2 separate regions of the Homo sapiens genome follow, and region 1 is linked to region 2. Evidence: fine-mapped expression QTL. Tissue or cell type: cerebellar hemisphere. Region 2 holds a variant in brackets; the other region holds the start of a gene. All regions are shown on one strand. Distances are between the middles of the regions.

Region 1 (8,100 bases), 830 kb after region 2:
TTCTCCTGCCTCAGCCTCCTGAGTAGCTGGGACTACTGGTGCGTGCCACCATGCCTGGCTTTTTTTTTTTTTTTTGTAGATATGGGGTTTCCCCATGTTGCCCAGGCTAGTCTTCAACTCCTGAGCTCAGGTGATTCACCTGCCTTGGCTTCCTGAAGTGCTGGGATTACAGGTGTGAGCCACTGCGCCCAGCTTTACCCTCCTTTCTGTTGGTCCCACCTCAAGGTCTTTACCTCTGCTGTCAACTTTGAAAGGTTGACTTCCGGCGGGGCGTGGTGGCTCACGCCTGTAATCCCAGCACTTTGGGAGGCCAAGACGGGCGGATCATGAGGTCAGGAGATCGAGACCATCCTGGCTAACACAGTGAAACCCATCTCTACTAAAAATACAAAAAATTAGCCAGGCGTGGTGGTGGGCGCCTGTAGTCCCAGCTACTTGGGAGGCTGAGGCAGGAGAATGGTGTGAACCCAGGAGGCGGAGCTTGCAGTGAGCTGAGATAGTGCCACTGCACTCCAGCCTGGGCGACAGAGCAAGACTCTGTCTCAAAAAAAAAAAAAAAAAAAAAAAAAGGTTGACTTCCCTCTTCCTTCAGGTCTTAACTCCACTCTCCCCTGCTCAGAGATGGTTTCCTCAACCACTTGAGCTTCAAAGGCCAAGTCACTTTTATCTTCTTTACATTACTCATCACTCTCTGAAATTATCTTTTATTTGTTTGTCTTTAGGTTTTGGTTTTGGTCTTTGATCTCTCTCCATCCCACTATGATCTAAGCTCCGTGAGGACAGTGACTGCCTGGTTCACTCACTGCCATATGTATATATCCAGTGTCTAGAATAGCGGCCCTGGTCCCCAAGAACATTTGCTATATGAACCAACAACCAAGCACAGCCCACAAGCCAGATGAACCTGGAGCTCAGAGGTCCTGGGGAGAGCTAGCTTGTCAGGGGCAGTGCTGGGACTCAAATCTGGGGCTCCTGCCCCCTCCTGACCATCATCACTCTGCTAGCTGCCCCAGAAGCAAAGGAACCACCCACCTCATTTGCTGCTGCAGAAGCGGCCATTTGATTTTGTTGAATTGTTTTAAAATACCACAATGTAGCTGCTTTGTAAATAAATATGTATATGTGAGGGGGTGCGTGTGTGTTGGCATAAAAGATTTAGAAAAGAATTGAAGATAGATGAATATTTATGGATGTAAGGGAGGTATGGTTAAGTGGGAAAAGGCCGATTGCAGAGAAATGGGCTTATTTTGTTTCTATTTTGGGGGAAAAAAATCAACAAACCAACCAATCCATCACTTATGTTGTCCTCTGTGTGTCGTGTCTAAGTCTGCAGAAGTGAGAGAAAGCTATGGAAGGATGCACTCCAGCCACAGACCGGTTCTCTCAAGACAGTGGTTGTGAGAGTGGTGGCAGGGCAGGAGCACAATGGGGTTTGCCCTTATCAGAGGCGGACTGTTTGCAGTGTATTCCTCTTGTAACTTGGACAAGATCATGAATAAAAGAAGAGAGAAGATGCTAGTTTGCATATCTTGCCATAAGCTTTTTTTCCCAGACAGCTCAAACTATCCATGGGTGGGTGGGGGTGTCTTTCTGGCATCTCGTTCTGTCTCAACCCCACCCCATCCCCTCTCGTCCCCAGTTCTCAAAAGGGGAACCTAAGACCAGAGATGGGAAAAGACTTGAGCAGGGTCACAAGCCACCTCCTGGCTCTGCCACAGCTTCCTGCCCCAGTCTAGCCCCGTAATGATTTATAGGGACTTTAAGAATGAATGTGGGGGCCAGACAGTGGCTCATGCCTGTAATCCCAGCACTTTGGGAGGCTGAGGTGGGCAGATCACCTGAGGTCAGGAGTTCGAAACCAGCCTGGCCAACATGGTGAAACCCTGTATCTACTAAAAGTACAAAAATTAGCCCAGCGTGGTGGCACACACCTGTAGTCCCAGCTACTTGCGAGGCTGAGGCAGGAGAATCACTTGAACCCGGGAGGCAGAGGTTGCAGTGAGCTGAGATTATGCCACTACACTCCAGCCTGGCAGCAAGAGTAAAACTCTGCCTCAAAAAAAAAAAAAATAGTGAATGTGAAAAATGGGAAGTTGCAGTGAGAGAGAGAAGGGGAGGGAGAGAAGAAACAGGAAAGTGGGGGAAAGGTCACAAAGGGTACAGGATCAGGGAAAGAAGAGGAGGAAGAAGAAGACAAGAGATAAGGACAAGGAGAGAAAGAAAGAAGAGGTGGCTGGTGCAGTGGCTCACACCTGTAATCTCAGCACTTTGAGAGGCCCAGGTGGGAGGATCACTTGAGGCCAGGAATTTGAGACTAGTCTGGGCAATATAGTGAGACCCCCATCTCTACAAAGAAAAAAAATTAAAAATTAGCCAGGTGTGGTGGCGTGCATCTGTGGTCCCAGCTACTCCAGAGGCTGAGGTGGCAGGATCGCTTGAGGCAGGGAAATTGAGGCTGCAGTGAGCTGTGTATGCTTGCACCACTCCACTCCAGCCTAGGTGAGAAAGTCAGACCCTGTCTCAAAAAAACAAGAAAAAGAAAGAAAAAAAGAGAAGAAAGAAGAAAGAAAGAAAGAAAGAAAGAAAGAAAGAAAGAAAGAAAGAAAGAAAAAGAGAGAGAGAGAGAAAAAGAGAAAGAAGGAAAGAAAGAAAGAAGGAAAGAGAAAGAAGGAAAGAGAAAGAAAAAAGAGAAAGGTAGGTCAGAACAAGAAGGAAATGAATGAGAGAAGGAAATGAGAGAAGTTAATGAAGATTAAGGCATAAGTGAGGAAGCAAGCAAGTATCAAGAGACTGAGTCATGCAATGGGCAACAGTCTGAAAAGCAGAGACAGACAGATGTGGAACTGTGCTGTCAGCAGCAGGGATGGAGAGACAATGACCCAGAGACAGAGGCAGGTGGAAAGTCAGCAGTGGATAACAGAGATGGGAAGGGATGGGAACCTCCAGAAATGGCAGGGACACAAAGACCTAAAGAGATGCATGACAGAGACAGAGACAGGTGGTCAGAAAGTCAGAGGGCGATTCAGACTGGTCAGGTGGGAGACGGGGGAGGACTAGCAAGGGACTGAGGCTGTGGCCCACCAGGTCCCTGCGTCCTGCGTGGATGGGGCTGTGTTTGTGTGACTGGTGTCTGCAGGTGCTGCTTCGGGTGGGACGCTGTGACGGGGTTTCTGTGCCAGACTTGGTCTATGCGGGCGGCCTCTCTGAGACTCTTGGGGACTCTGTCGGGGTTCTTGGTTGTCCCTGGAACTCTTTGTTCAGGGGAGGGCCTGGGGGAATCCTCCAGAAAGTCTGAATTAACCCAGCTCCCTGCCCTCCTGAGCGCCCACCCTCCAGCCTCCTGCCTCCTTGCACTCTCCTCCCTTTTCTTAGGGGGAAATCTAGGAATCTCCTTGACCACCCCCTGCCTGCCAGGCCCTACTGGGGAGACTCAAGGTCCAGCTATCTAACCTCAGTGCAGAAACCTGCCCCTGGCCCTCTCCCCAACTGGGAGGGCCGGGCCGGGCCGGGGTTAACCCTTCAACCTGCTTTAACCCTTCCCTTCCGTCTTTCCTTCATCCTCCCATGCCCATCGCTCTTCCACTGTCCAGCCCCACGAACCTAGACATTCAATCAGAGCTTGGGAATCCAAGACCCCAGCCCAGCACCCCAACTTCCTGTATCTCCAGCTCCCTTCTCCCCCACATAACTGCAACCTCCCCAAGTACCAACACTTTCTCTCAACCTAGATGACCCTGCTGGGGGATTTCAGACCCTTCCCCTCTTTTCCTGACCCTGGGACTAGGTCTGTGGACACCCTTGTCCCCTCCTCTTACTGACCCTGGGAAGGCATCCATCCCCTGACCTCTGTCCCGAGATGACTACCCCAGCCCCCGGCAAGGACCTCTTCAGGGACCCTCTCCACGTACAGATGAAGACCCCTAACAGGGCATTATCCCCTGCCCCCCACCCCAACTCAGTTCGGAGATCCGACCCGGGGACCCCGAGTCCAGTGTCTGCCCCCTCCTCAACAGGAGCCGCAGACTCCTGCCCCCAGGCAGGGCTAGGTGTCTGCGACCCTCTTGCCTGCTCGGGGAAGCAGACCTCCGCCCCTAGACCCGGCTCCGGCCCGAGGACGCCGACCCCTGCCCCGGGGCGCGGACCCCCACGTCCGAGGTCCCCCTGCCCAGCCAGGGAATGCAGACCCCACCCCCGGGCCCAGACCCCGGCGTCCCGGGGCCTCCCCGCGCCGGCCCAGGGATGCAGCCCTCGACCCCCACCCCTGATCCCCCGATTACCCACCCAAGACCCTGGCGTCCCGGCCGAGCCCCCCGCCCCCGGCGCTGCGGTACCTCGGCTGATGACGGCCAAGCCGGCCAGGGCGGCGGCGGCGAGAAGCCGGAGCCGGGCCCCGGGCGCAGGGGGGGGCATCGCGGCAGAGGCGGCGCGGAGGGGGAGGGGAAAGGGGGGGCCGGTCCGGGGCGCGCGAGGCCTGGGGGGAGAGGGGGGAGGGGGAGGGGGACCCCGCCTGCGCTGCACCGGCCCGGGGGGCGGCGGGGGCGGGGGGAGGGGGCTGGGGGGGCGCGACGAGGCGGCTGGAGCTGCTGCAGACCCGGGGAGGGGGGCGGCGCTGACGGGCAGGGAGACCGGCCAATCAGGAGAGGTGGGGGGCCGGGGAGGCGGGGTCAAGGGGGGGTTGCTTGTTGGAGGGAGAGGCCTTTGTTACTGCGGCCCGGCCCCTACCCCTCCCGCCCCAGGCGTCCCCACGTCTTTCCACCACATCCGCAGAACACGGAGTCTGGGATACTTCCTAAAACCCAGCTCCCTCCTCCTTCAAGTCCCAATCTCATCCTCCCATGGACCTAGGAGACTAGCCCCAGTCCCTCCTCTCTCAGACCCAGGAGCCCAGGTCCCCAGCCCCTCCTCCCTCAGACCCTGGAGTCCAGGCCCCCAGCCCCTCCTCCCTCAGACCCAGGAGTCCAGGCCCCCAGCCCCTCCTCCCTCAGACCCAGGAGTCCAGGCCCCCAGCCCCTCCTCCCTCAGCCCAGGAGTCCAGGCCCCCAGCCCCTCCTCCCTCAGACCCAGGAGTCCAGGCCCAGCCCCTCCTCTCTCAGACCCTGGAGCCCAGGCCCCCAGCCCCTCCTCCCTCAGACCCAGGAGTCCAGGCCCCCAGCCCCTCCTCCCTCAGACCCTGGAGCCCAGGCCCCCAGCCCCTCCTCCCTCAGACCCAGGAGTCCAGGCCCCCAGCCCCTCCTCCCTCAGACCCAGGAGTCCAGGCCCCCAGCCCCTCCTCCCTCAGACCCTGGAGCCCAGGCCCCCAGCCCCTCCTCCCTCAGACCCAGGAGTCCAGGCCCCCAGCCCCTCCTCCCTCAGACCCAGGAGTCCAGGCCCCCAGCCCCTCCTCCCTCAGACCCTGGAGCCCAGGCCCCCAGCCCCTCGTCCCTCAGACCCAGGAGTCCAGGCCCCCAGCCCCTCCTCCCTCAGACCCAGGAGTCCAGGCCCCCAGCTCCTCCTCCCTCAGACCCTGGAGTCCAGGCCCCCAGCCCCTCCTCCCTCAGAGCCAGGAGTCCAGGTCCCCAGCCCCTCCTCCCTCAGGCCCAGGAGTCCAGGTCCCCAGTTCCTCCTCCCTCAGACCTAGGAGTCCAGGCCCCCAGCCCCTCCTCCCTCAGACCCAGGAGTCCAGGTCCCCAGTCCCTCCTCCCTCAGACCCTGGAGTCCAGGCCCCCAGCCCCTCCTCCCTCAGACCCTGGAGTCCAGGCCCCCAGCCCCTCCTCCCTCAGACCCAGGAGTCCAGGCCCCCAGCCCCTCCTCCCTCAGACCCAGGAGTCCAGGCCCCCAGCCCCCTCCTCCCTCAGACCCAGGAGGCCAGGCCCCCAGGCCCCTCTTCCTGTGGGCCACAGTTCAGCTTTTCCATCTATTTTCATGGATAACGAAAACACTGACTTTTGGAGTGAAATTTGCTTTTTTCCTCCACCCCAACCCTCATCCCCAGTATAATAAGGCAATGGGAAGGGATTGGGGGACTTATCTTGGGGGAGCAGGTGGGGAGGAAACCATAATCCAGGGTTTAGGTGCAAAACATCCTGGCTCCCTGTTCTTTCACTGACTTGGCTGTGTGACCTTGGACAAGCCATTTCTCTTCCCAGAACCTCAGCGTCTTCCCCTGCAAGGTGGAAAATTCCCTATTGCCCAAGGTTATTGAGAAGAATGAGAGATCTTGGAGCAGCTCCTGGCTCCAGCCAGCACCTCAAAAACCTGTAGTGAGTTTCTCCCTCCCCTTTCCACTTTGCATCTGTTTACTAGGTGTATTCCACCCTCCTGTTCCCGTCCCCTTGGCATACGCAGGAGCAAAATAATCTCTGAGTCTACGTTATTTCTGTAGCAGTTCAAGGCAGGAGCTTTTGAAGTTACCCAGTAGGGGCTGTTCTGCCTCAGAAACATATCCATCCTCAATTCCTTCCCCCTCCACTCACATCCAATTTGTCTGCAAGAACCGCTGGCTCTGTCTCCAAAACAAATCTCTGCTTTGTCCTTTTCTTACTCTCCCATCCTGGTCTGAGCTTTCACCACCTCTCCCTGTAGGACTCTGGCTGTAGCAGCCTATGCTCTACTCTCTTGGCCTCTACCTTTGCCTCCACCTTCAGAACAACCACCACTAAACACCTGGACCAGCTAGGGCCACTCCCTGCCTCAATCACTCAGCTCGCTGTGACCTTCTTTCCATTCCTTAAACAAACCGAACAATTCCAGCCCCAGGGTCTTTGTACTTGCCGTTCTTTCGCTGGAATGCTCTTCCTACCACACTGGCAGATGACTCTTTCTTATTTAAGGCTCATCTTCTCCCCTTTAAGAAGCCTTCATTGATCATAGTTTCCAAAGTAGCTGCTACTCCCAGCACAATAACTCTACGTCATACCTCTTCATAGCACTAACAATGTTCTTTTGCCTTTTCCTTTTCTTTTCTTTCTTTCTTTCTTTCTTTCTTTTTTTTTTGACAGAGTTTTGCTCTTCTTGCCCAGGCTAGAGTGCAATGGTATGATCTTGGCTCACCACAACCTCTAACTCCTGGGTTCAAGTGATTCTCCTGCCTCAGCCTCCTGAGCAGCTGGGATCACAGGCATGCACCATCACAGTCGGCTCGTTTTGTATTTTTAATAGAGATGGGGTTTCTCCATGCTAGTCAGGCTGGTCTTCAACTCCTGATCTCAGGCGATCTGCCCGCCTCGGCCTCTTAAAGTGCTGGGATTACAGGTGTGAGCCACTGCGCCCGGCCGATTTCCTTCTTTCACTGTTATTTTTAGTTGCTCTCCCCCTACTCCCACTTCCAGAATGTAAGCTTCACGGAGTTTTTTGTTTTTGTTTTGGTCTGCTTTTGTTCAAGGCTGGATTTCCAGAGCCCAACCTAGTGACTGACATGTAGTACGTACTCAAATAAATACGTACTGCATGAGTGAGTCGGATGGCTTAGCTCCGTTTGGAGAGATGGAGGGAAGTAAGATACAGAGGGAGGAAGAGACCTGCCTGCGTTCACAAAACTGGGTGATGCAAAAGTTAATGGTGTTCTGCAGGTGGCTTGCACTGGCTCAAAAGAGCTGATTATTAAATTTTCAGAAATTGTGCAAGCCAGGTGTTAAACCATTATTAGCTTGAAACTGGCCATGTTGGGAGGATTTACACCACAGCAATGGTGAACACTGAATCAGCTTGCCAGCCCACCACTCTACAAAATCCATTGTGATCCTGGTGAAAGGCCATTTATTGATCCTCTTTGAATTCCGGACCGTTCAGACTTAGGATGAGAACAGGAGCTCCCTCTTCCTGAAATGGCCCATCCCATGCCTGATAAAATATGAGTGCTTACTCGGTGTAGGGATCTTTCTAAGCACTTTGTACATATTATCTCCTTGAAGCATCATGACACCCTTCTGAGGCAGCACTTATCTTTATCCCTATTTCACAGGTGAGGACAAAGAGACATGGAGAATTTTTTACATCCCAAGAGCTATAAATGTGTGATACTGTGAAATATATATTTGGTCTTCATAACACCCCCGCTACGTCCACTGGCAAGCCCCAGGTAGCTTCAGTATGGGGGTTGGTCACAGGAAAGAACAAGGCATG
Region 2 (8,082 bases):
TCTCAGCAAAATTGCACATTTGCTATGGACCTACTGGGTAGTACCTTCTTTGTTTCCCTTTTCTGAATGTGAGGGTTAATTCAGGTTTTATTTTTCTGTTCCACCATGAAATGTCGTGAGTGACGAGGACTCTATTGGGCTCTCAGTGAACAGAAGTGTCATGAGACTGTCATGAGATCCTTGCTTGCAACTGAAAGTTATGTTTGGGCTTTTTTTTTTAAAAAAAAATGTTAGAGGAAGTGGAGGTGAATATTTTGTGTGGGCAAAAGAGGAACAAATTATTTCTGATGGAAGCTGCGCTGTCACATATTGTAATATTTCGAGACAGGGTCTCGCTCAGTCACCCAGGCTGGAGTGCAGTGGTGCGATCTCAGCTCACTGCAACCTCCACCTCCTGGACTCAGGTGATCCTCTTCTCTCAGCCTCCCAAGTAGCTGGGACTACAGGTGCACACCAGCATACCTAGCTAATTTTTGGATTTTTTTGTAGAGATGGGGTTTCGCCATGTTGCCCAGACTGGGAGAAACATATTTTAAGGTATAATTAGCATGTTGTGTTGTTAAAATCTCAGTGATAAACTTGCATATTAGCAACAGAGCTCTTGTTTCCACATTATACAATTTCAGTTTATTTTCTTGTATCATTCCAATGCTTTCCCTGAACTTAAAATAAAAGGGATCCTCCACATATTGGTGGAACACATTCTTTGCATCTGTTATTTTTCTATTCTTTTTTTGCCACACAAATCTGAGAATGTCACCTCGATTTTTGGATCCTTCAAGTTCTTCAATGGAAGAAATGTAAGTCCATAAATTGGGTTAAATGGTTTCTAGTGGAGTGTGTAATGATAAAAAATTATTTTTAAAATGTAGTTTTGGCTGGGCTCTGTGGCTCATGCCTGTATTCCTAGCACTTTGGGAGGCTGAGGTGGACAGATTGAGCCCAGAAGTTTGAGACCGGCCTAGGCAACATTATAAAACCCCATCTCTACTAAAAACACAAAAACTGAGGTGAGAGGATCACTTGAGCCTGGGGAGGTGGAGGCTGCATGAGCCGTGATTGCACCACCACACTGCAGCCTGGGCAAGAGAGCAAGATCCCATCTCAAAAAAAATTATATTACAGTTGAAAAATCATAGAATACAATGTTTAATATGATAACTCAAATATGCATTGTTAGAGCCTTTGAAAAATGCAATTTTATTAAATTATTTAATATTTATTGTCTGATAAATTTAATTTTTATAGTGCATGTGTAAAAATATTATAGACAATTTGAACAGTATTTCAGAAGCACTTTCAACAATTATATTGTGTAAAGTGTCCTATGTATGCATGAATAAAGGACATGTATAAAGTATTTAGCATGAGGAAAATTGAGTCTTTCTCAACCTAGGCATCATAAGTTTCAGGAGTAAACATTCAGTATTTTTTTTTGTATTTTTTAAAACCAGAACATTTATTGCATGACTAATCATAGACATTCTTAAGATGAACTGGATGCTGCAACAGCTGCCCTCTTGGGTTTAAGTATTGTTCCTTCATAGAATCCATGCCTGAATCTGTGGTATACAATTTTTAGGTGCCTCATTCCACCAGTTCCGGTGGTATTTTGTCTTTTAGCCTTGGCACTCCAGTTATACTTTCTCTTGCGCTTGGCAGCGTAGCCACATTTGCCACAGGTCGACTTCTGAAGGTGGTAGGCCTTAGAGCCACGGCGGCAACACAACGTGTGCGTCTTATTGCGACGCTTTCCAAACAATGACGTTCCCTTCGTCATCTGGCTTCTGCGGCCAAGACCAGAGAGACCGGAAGAGAAGGCACTTCCGCTATATCACGCTCAGAAGCTCAACATTCCGTGTTGAATTAGAGTCTGAGCCGAGATGGCATTACTGCACTACTGCTTGGGTGACCGGAGCCAGACACTGCCTCAAAAAAAAAAATTCTCCCAGGCTCAAGCAATTTCCAACCTCAGCCTTCCAACTAGCTTGGACTACTGGTGCACACCATTACCCTTGGCTAATTTTTGTATTTTTTGTAGAGATAGAGTTTTGTAATGTTGCCCAGGTTGCTCTTGAACTCCTGGGTTCAAGCAATCTGCCCACCTCAGCCTCTCTCAATGTGCTGGGATTACAGGCGTGAGCCACTGCACCCTGCCTTGTTCCTTTACTTGCTTAGTAAACTTGCTTTCACTTTACAGTGTGAACTCACCCCTAATTCTTTCTTGCATGAGATCCAAGAACCCTCCCTTTTGGTTGTAACTGCCCAACAGGTTCTCCTTCCCTGCTGCCTAGACAGAGCTGATTCATCAAGACAGGGGAATTGCAAGAGAGAGTTTAATTCATGTGGAGCTGGCTGTACAGGAACCTGAAATTTTTTTATTACTCACATGAGTCTCCCTGAAAACTCGGGGATCAGGGTTTTTAAGGATAATTTGATAGGTAGGTGTCAGTGAGTCGGGAGTGCTGATTGGTTGGGTAGGAGACGAAATCATAGAGATCTGAAGCTGTCATTTTGCACTGAGTCAGTTCCTGGGTGGGGTCACAAGACCAGATGAGCCAGTTTATGGATCTGGGTTGGTGTCAGGTGATCCATCAAGTGCAGGGAATGCAAAATATCTCAAGCACTGATCTTAGGTTTTATAATAGTAATGTTATCCCCAGGAACAATCTGGGAAGGGTGAGAATCTTGTAGCCTCCAGCTACATGACTCCTAAACCATCATCTCTCACCTTGTGCCTAATTTGTTAGTCTTACAAAGGCAGTCTAGTCCCCAAGCAGGAAGGGGGTTTGTTTTGGGAAAGGGCTGTTAATGTCTTTGTTTCAAACTATAAACTAAGTTCCTTCCAAAGTTAGTTCAGCCTATGCCCAGGAATGAACAAGAGCAGCTTGGAGGTTAAAAGCAAGATGGAGTTGATTAGGTCAGATCTCTTTCACTGTAATAATTTTCTCAGTTATAATTGTGCAATGGAAGTTTCAGGTTCTGGATCAGGACCCCTTTCTGGTAACACAAGGATGGTTATGAATGCATCCAGATATCCAAAAAGTTATCTCTGAAAGCCAGAGATTTCCTTTCCCTATGGGTTCTTCCCTTGCATGTCAACCCAAGGATTCACTGGGGACCTAGAATTGTGCAGGGCAGTTAGGAAGAGAGAGACAAAAGAGAGAAGAGGTGAAGTAGTTTTGAAGAAGAGAAAGAAGGTCCCATGCAGCCTCAGTTTTTTTTCCAACAAACTTTTCATGCTGGGAAATAGGATCCTGGTTTATTTGTGGGAGGGATTTTATAGGAGGGTGAGAAAAAAATGCCCTTTGAGGGTAGAGTCTGTGGAGCCCTAATTGGGGAAAAGGAGTCAGCCTGAAAGGACCAGGAGAAAGCAAAGAGATAAAGCAAATAAGCTATAAATCTTTCTTCATGGTCCAGAACATATAAAAAAAAATAGAGGAAGCAGATAAGCTGTAGGTCTCTTTTTCTTTATGGCCAAGGACATATGGCCTTTCTGTGGAAAGAACGTAAATAAGTCACAAACTTTCTGCTTTCATTTATCATCAAACGCCTCAGCTAACAGAAGAATGCAAGTTAGCTCCCTGCTACCTTGGCCTCCCAAAGTGTGGGGATTATAGGCGTTAGCCACTGCACCCAACCAAATCTCCTCTTCTCATGGCTCACTGCAGCCTTCACCTCCTGGGCTCAAATGATCCTCCTTCCTTACCCTTCCGAGTTGCTGGGCCCACACGTGCAGGCCACCATGTCCAGATAATTTAATTTTTTGTAGAGAGGTCTGGCTATGTTGCCCAGGATGATCTCAAATCCCTGGCCTCAAGCA[A/G]TTCTGACACCTCAGCTTCCCAAGTAGCTGGGACTACAAGAGTGCATTACCAAGCCTGGCTACTTTTTGTATTTCTTGTAGAGATGGGGGTCTCACGATGCTGTCCAGGCTGGTTTTGAACTCTTGAGCTCAAGTGACCTGCCCACCTGGGCCTCCAAAACTGCTGGCCCATCTCAAAAGACTTAATCCATTTCAGTATCAACTCTCAAAAGTCTTAATCCATTCCTGTATCAGCTCTTAGGGCAGAATACCCCCTAAATATTATCTGAACCACACATGGGTGAGAATCAAGGTGTGATTCATCCTGAGGCAAAATTTCTGCCCAGCTGTGAATCTGTGAGGCCAGAGAAGTTATCTGCTTCCAAAATATAATGGTGATAAAGGCATAGGATACATCCCCCAGCCCTGGTAACCACCCTTCTAATCTGTTACTGTAAATTTGACGTTTGTACTTTGCACGTGTAAAAGCACAGGCAGTATTTGTCTTTCTGTGTCTAGCATATTTCGCTTGGCATAATGTCTTCCGGGTTCCTGGATCCAGCCACGGCTCCACATCAAATCCCCAGCGAGATCCTAGTTCCCTGACTATTGAGTAGCTTCAGCATCATCGGCAAGAGTGGATGGAGTCCACCAAGCTTGTAAAAATCGGTTTTGACTTAGTTCAACTTGTTAAGAAATCATCTTAGTTTCTAATATAAGTGGACCACAACTTTAAGCTTTAACCTTAAATTTTGAAACATTAACTTAAAATAGGCAGGCAGCAACGCTGCTTCACAGGACAAGAAGTAGTCAGAAAACCAAAGACATGCTGCCTGTGAACCAGAGTAAATAACAGGCTCTATTTCGGCCCCGCTTACCCCATGAAACCCCGCCCCATCCTCCGCCGCGGCTCCGTCCCGCCCCACCTAGCCACGCCCACTGCCGCTCCGGCCCGGCTCCACCCTCTCAGGGTCCCTCCCCGAGTCAGGCCCCTCTTTCCGACCCGCCCCTTGCTGGTCGCGGCTCGCCCAGGCCCCGCCCCCTGGCCTCCCAGTTTTTTCTCTCCGCTAGCAGTTTCCGTCACTCCCGGAAGCAGATTGCGCCAGGGAAAGGCCTTATCGCTGTGTGTGTGTTTCAGTCTACGTGGATTAAACATTACTTCGCTCCGTCTGCCTGGATTAAACGTGCACTTTGCAGTCCTCACTTCTCCGTACCAGTGATCTGGGGATCGCTACGGACCTTAAAATACCCATAGCCCCTTCGCCCCTGCAACAGGCACTTCTCCCCACGTAAGTCCGAGAATTGCTTCCCTGTCGGTTTAAAATCTCTCTCAGGCTGTTCCTTGCCCCCTGCCTTTCTGCCATGTAGATAACCATGTCGATAACCCCATTCAGGTCGTGTTCCTGCTTAAAACTCTCATTGACCCCTGCTTCGGCCCCGGGCGAAGTCAAGTCCTCCCTCGCGAGGTGGATTCCCACCAGTCGAGACCCCCGAGCTTCGCCCTTGTCGACGCCTGGAGGGGAGCGCCCGCTGCCCAGCTCCTGAAGGAGCCGCTTCTTCTCCCAGGTCCTGGGATTCTGCAGACCCTCCCTGTCCTGAGACACCGTCCCCCGCGCCACCTAGTGTCCTCCGCGCGCCACCTAGTGTCCTCCTCACGCCGGGTCCTTCCCCTCCCCAGGCTGCCCCTTCACAGCCACTGCTTTTCCTGACTCCGCGTTGCAGGAGGTCACCCGAGTCTGTCTTGTGACACCCACTGTCGTTCCTTCCCAAATTTTTACTCCACTGGAAAATGTGCTCTTCCGGGAGGTGGGCATCGTATTCCTCCCCTTTCCTCCTGAATGTGTGGGTGAGAGGGATCAGGAGAGGAAAAGAGGGGGAGCGACGGGACAGAAAGAAAAACTGGGGAGAAAAGAATGAGTACACGGCAAAATGGATGATAATTTAGGTACTGGCAAAGAGAGCAAGAGTGCAAGAGGACGCATGGAGAAAGTAGCACGGGGAGAAAAGCACATAAAGAAATTAGGGAAAAGGGAGAGCTTCAGGGAGCTGAAGGGCAGCAAAATAGAGAGGGGCGGCAAAGGAGGAGGCACTGCAGTCAGACGCGGGGGGCGGAAAAGGTAAGAGTCGGAGCCGCGGCTGACAGAGCCACGTGGTGCTGGGACTGAAGGAGAGGGGAGTGGGTAACAAAGGAGAGTAGAGGGAGAACCACAGCAAGGAGGAAGCCTAGGAAGTTGGGGGTGCTAGAGAGTGGGAACAAAGGAGATGTAACAGGGAAAAGGGAATTTAACAGGGAAGAGGGATTTTAACAGGGAGAGCAGACAGGGAGCTCAGATGGGGGAAAAGAGGCAGGAATACGTGGCGGCTGGGGACAATGGGAAAGTTTGGGGAGAAAGAGCAACAAGAGGTGAAATAAATTTCGAAGCATTGGGCAGAATAGACATAAAAGAGGGAATAAAGAAAGGGGAGAAAAACAGCAAAGGGAAAAAAGACGTGCAGAATGAGAGCGGGAAACACATAGTAGTGAAGAGAGTGGGCGAGGACCCCACCCAGATGAGCTGTGAGTTGATTGGATATGGATGGTGGTTTTAATGTATTGATTTGTGACTTTATACTCTAATTTAAAATTTGTTTCTTTAAATTGTACTCATGAGGATGAAAATTACCACTCTTTTCTACAAGGCTTGTGCATTTTGTATTTGTTTATATCAAAAGATATTTGGAATCCCTATTTAGCCACAGGGCAGTGACTTGATTCAGTCATTTTGTAACTCTTCTTTCCAGGGAGGGAGTAGAGGATGGAGGAGGAGAGAAATAGGCAAGAAATGACTGACTGTCACTACAAGATGTATCTTTGGTTTTTTGTTTGTTTTTTCTCTTTTTGAGACAGGGTCTCTGTCGCCCAGGCTGGAGTGCGGTAAAATTATATCGGCTCACTGCAGCCTCTCAGCTGCACTCCATCCTCCTCAGCCCCTGAAGGTGCTGGGATTACATGTGTGAACCACCTCTACAGGCCTACAATGTATGTCTTTGAAGGAGAGTTGAGAGTGTTGGTTTTTTGTTTTGTTAATGGATTTACTTTTTTCCTTGTAGTTGCTTTACAGTTAATTCATTGTTATTTTGGAAGCTTGATTTAAATTTTAGTTTATTCAGTTTCTTCTATAATTACTAACTTCTGAAATAAGATTTGATGTCATCCTGTAATCAGCTGATGTCATTAATTTCTCAATATTGCCTTTTTTTAACTTTTACCCCATAATTTATTAGATTTTTCAAAAACTTTCCAAACTGTTAAAGCGTCCAGTGCGGTAAACTCACCACGAAGTACATTAGATTCCTCAGAACTTCTTCATTTTATAACTGAGAATTTGTACCCTTTGACCAACATTTCTCCACTTTCCCCACCCAGCATCCTGTGGTAACAACTGTTCCGCCTTATTACTATGAATTGGACTTTTTTAGATTCTACTTGTGAGAACATACAGTAGTTGTCTTTGTGTGTCAGTCTTATATCGCCCAGCATAATGTCCTCCAGATTCATCCATGTTGTTGGAAATAGCAGGATTTTATTTATTTTTATTTTTATTTTTTATTTTTGAGACAGAGTCTCGCTCGCTCTGTCGCCCAGGCTAGAGTGCAGTGGTGTGATCTCGGCTCACTGCAAGCTCCGCCTCCCGGGTTCACACCATTCTCCTGCCTCAGCCTCTTGAGTAGCTGGGACTATAGGCACCCGCCACCACGCCCGGCTAATTTTTTGTATTTTTTTTTTAGTACAGACGGGGTTTCACTGTGTTAGCCAGGATGGTCTCAATCTCCTGACCTCATGATCCACCCGCCTCGGCCTCCCAAAGTGCTGGGATTACAGGCGTGAGCCACTGTGCCCGGCAGGATTTTCTTTTTTATGGTTGAATAATATTCCATTATATAAATATACACACACACACTCTGTATATATATATATATATATATACACATACATAAATATATATACACACACATTTTCTTTACATATTCATTCCTGGATGGGCACTTTGGTTGTTTCTATATCTTGGCCGTTGTGAATAATACTGCAGTGATCATGAGGGGGCAGAAGTTCCTAAGTTTTTTGTTTTTTGTTTTTTTAAGTAGAGACATGGTCCCGCTGTTTTGTCCAAGCTGGTCTCTAACTCCTGGTCTCAAGCGATCTTCCCATCTCAGCTTCTCAGAGTGCTGGGATTATAGGCATGAACTACCACACCTGGCCTAGATGTCTCTTAAACATACTGATTGGATTGCCTTTGGAT

The links. PIP is the estimated chance that this variant, and not a neighbour inherited with it, causes the effect.
Region 1: it holds the start of IGLON5, and the variant in region 2 is fine-mapped to the expression of IGLON5 in cerebellar hemisphere (GTEx, PIP 0.98).

What each region holds. Positions count from the first base shown.
Region 1 is chr19:51,308,158-51,316,257 of GRCh38, reverse strand. It overlaps IGLON5 (IgLON family member 5), which reads right to left and starts at 4,614. Exons shown (of 8, transcript NM_001101372.3): 1 at 4,332-4,614. The coding sequence starts at 4,410.
Region 2 is chr19:52,136,741-52,144,822 of GRCh38, reverse strand. ZNF616 (zinc finger protein 616) reads left to right here and starts at 4,885. Exons shown (of 4, transcript NM_178523.5): 1 at 4,885-5,091. It also overlaps the pseudogene RPL37P23. RefSeq lists silencers at 4,590-4,639, 4,650-4,929 and an enhancer at 5,050-5,289. The variant A/G (reference allele first, on the strand shown) is at 3,824.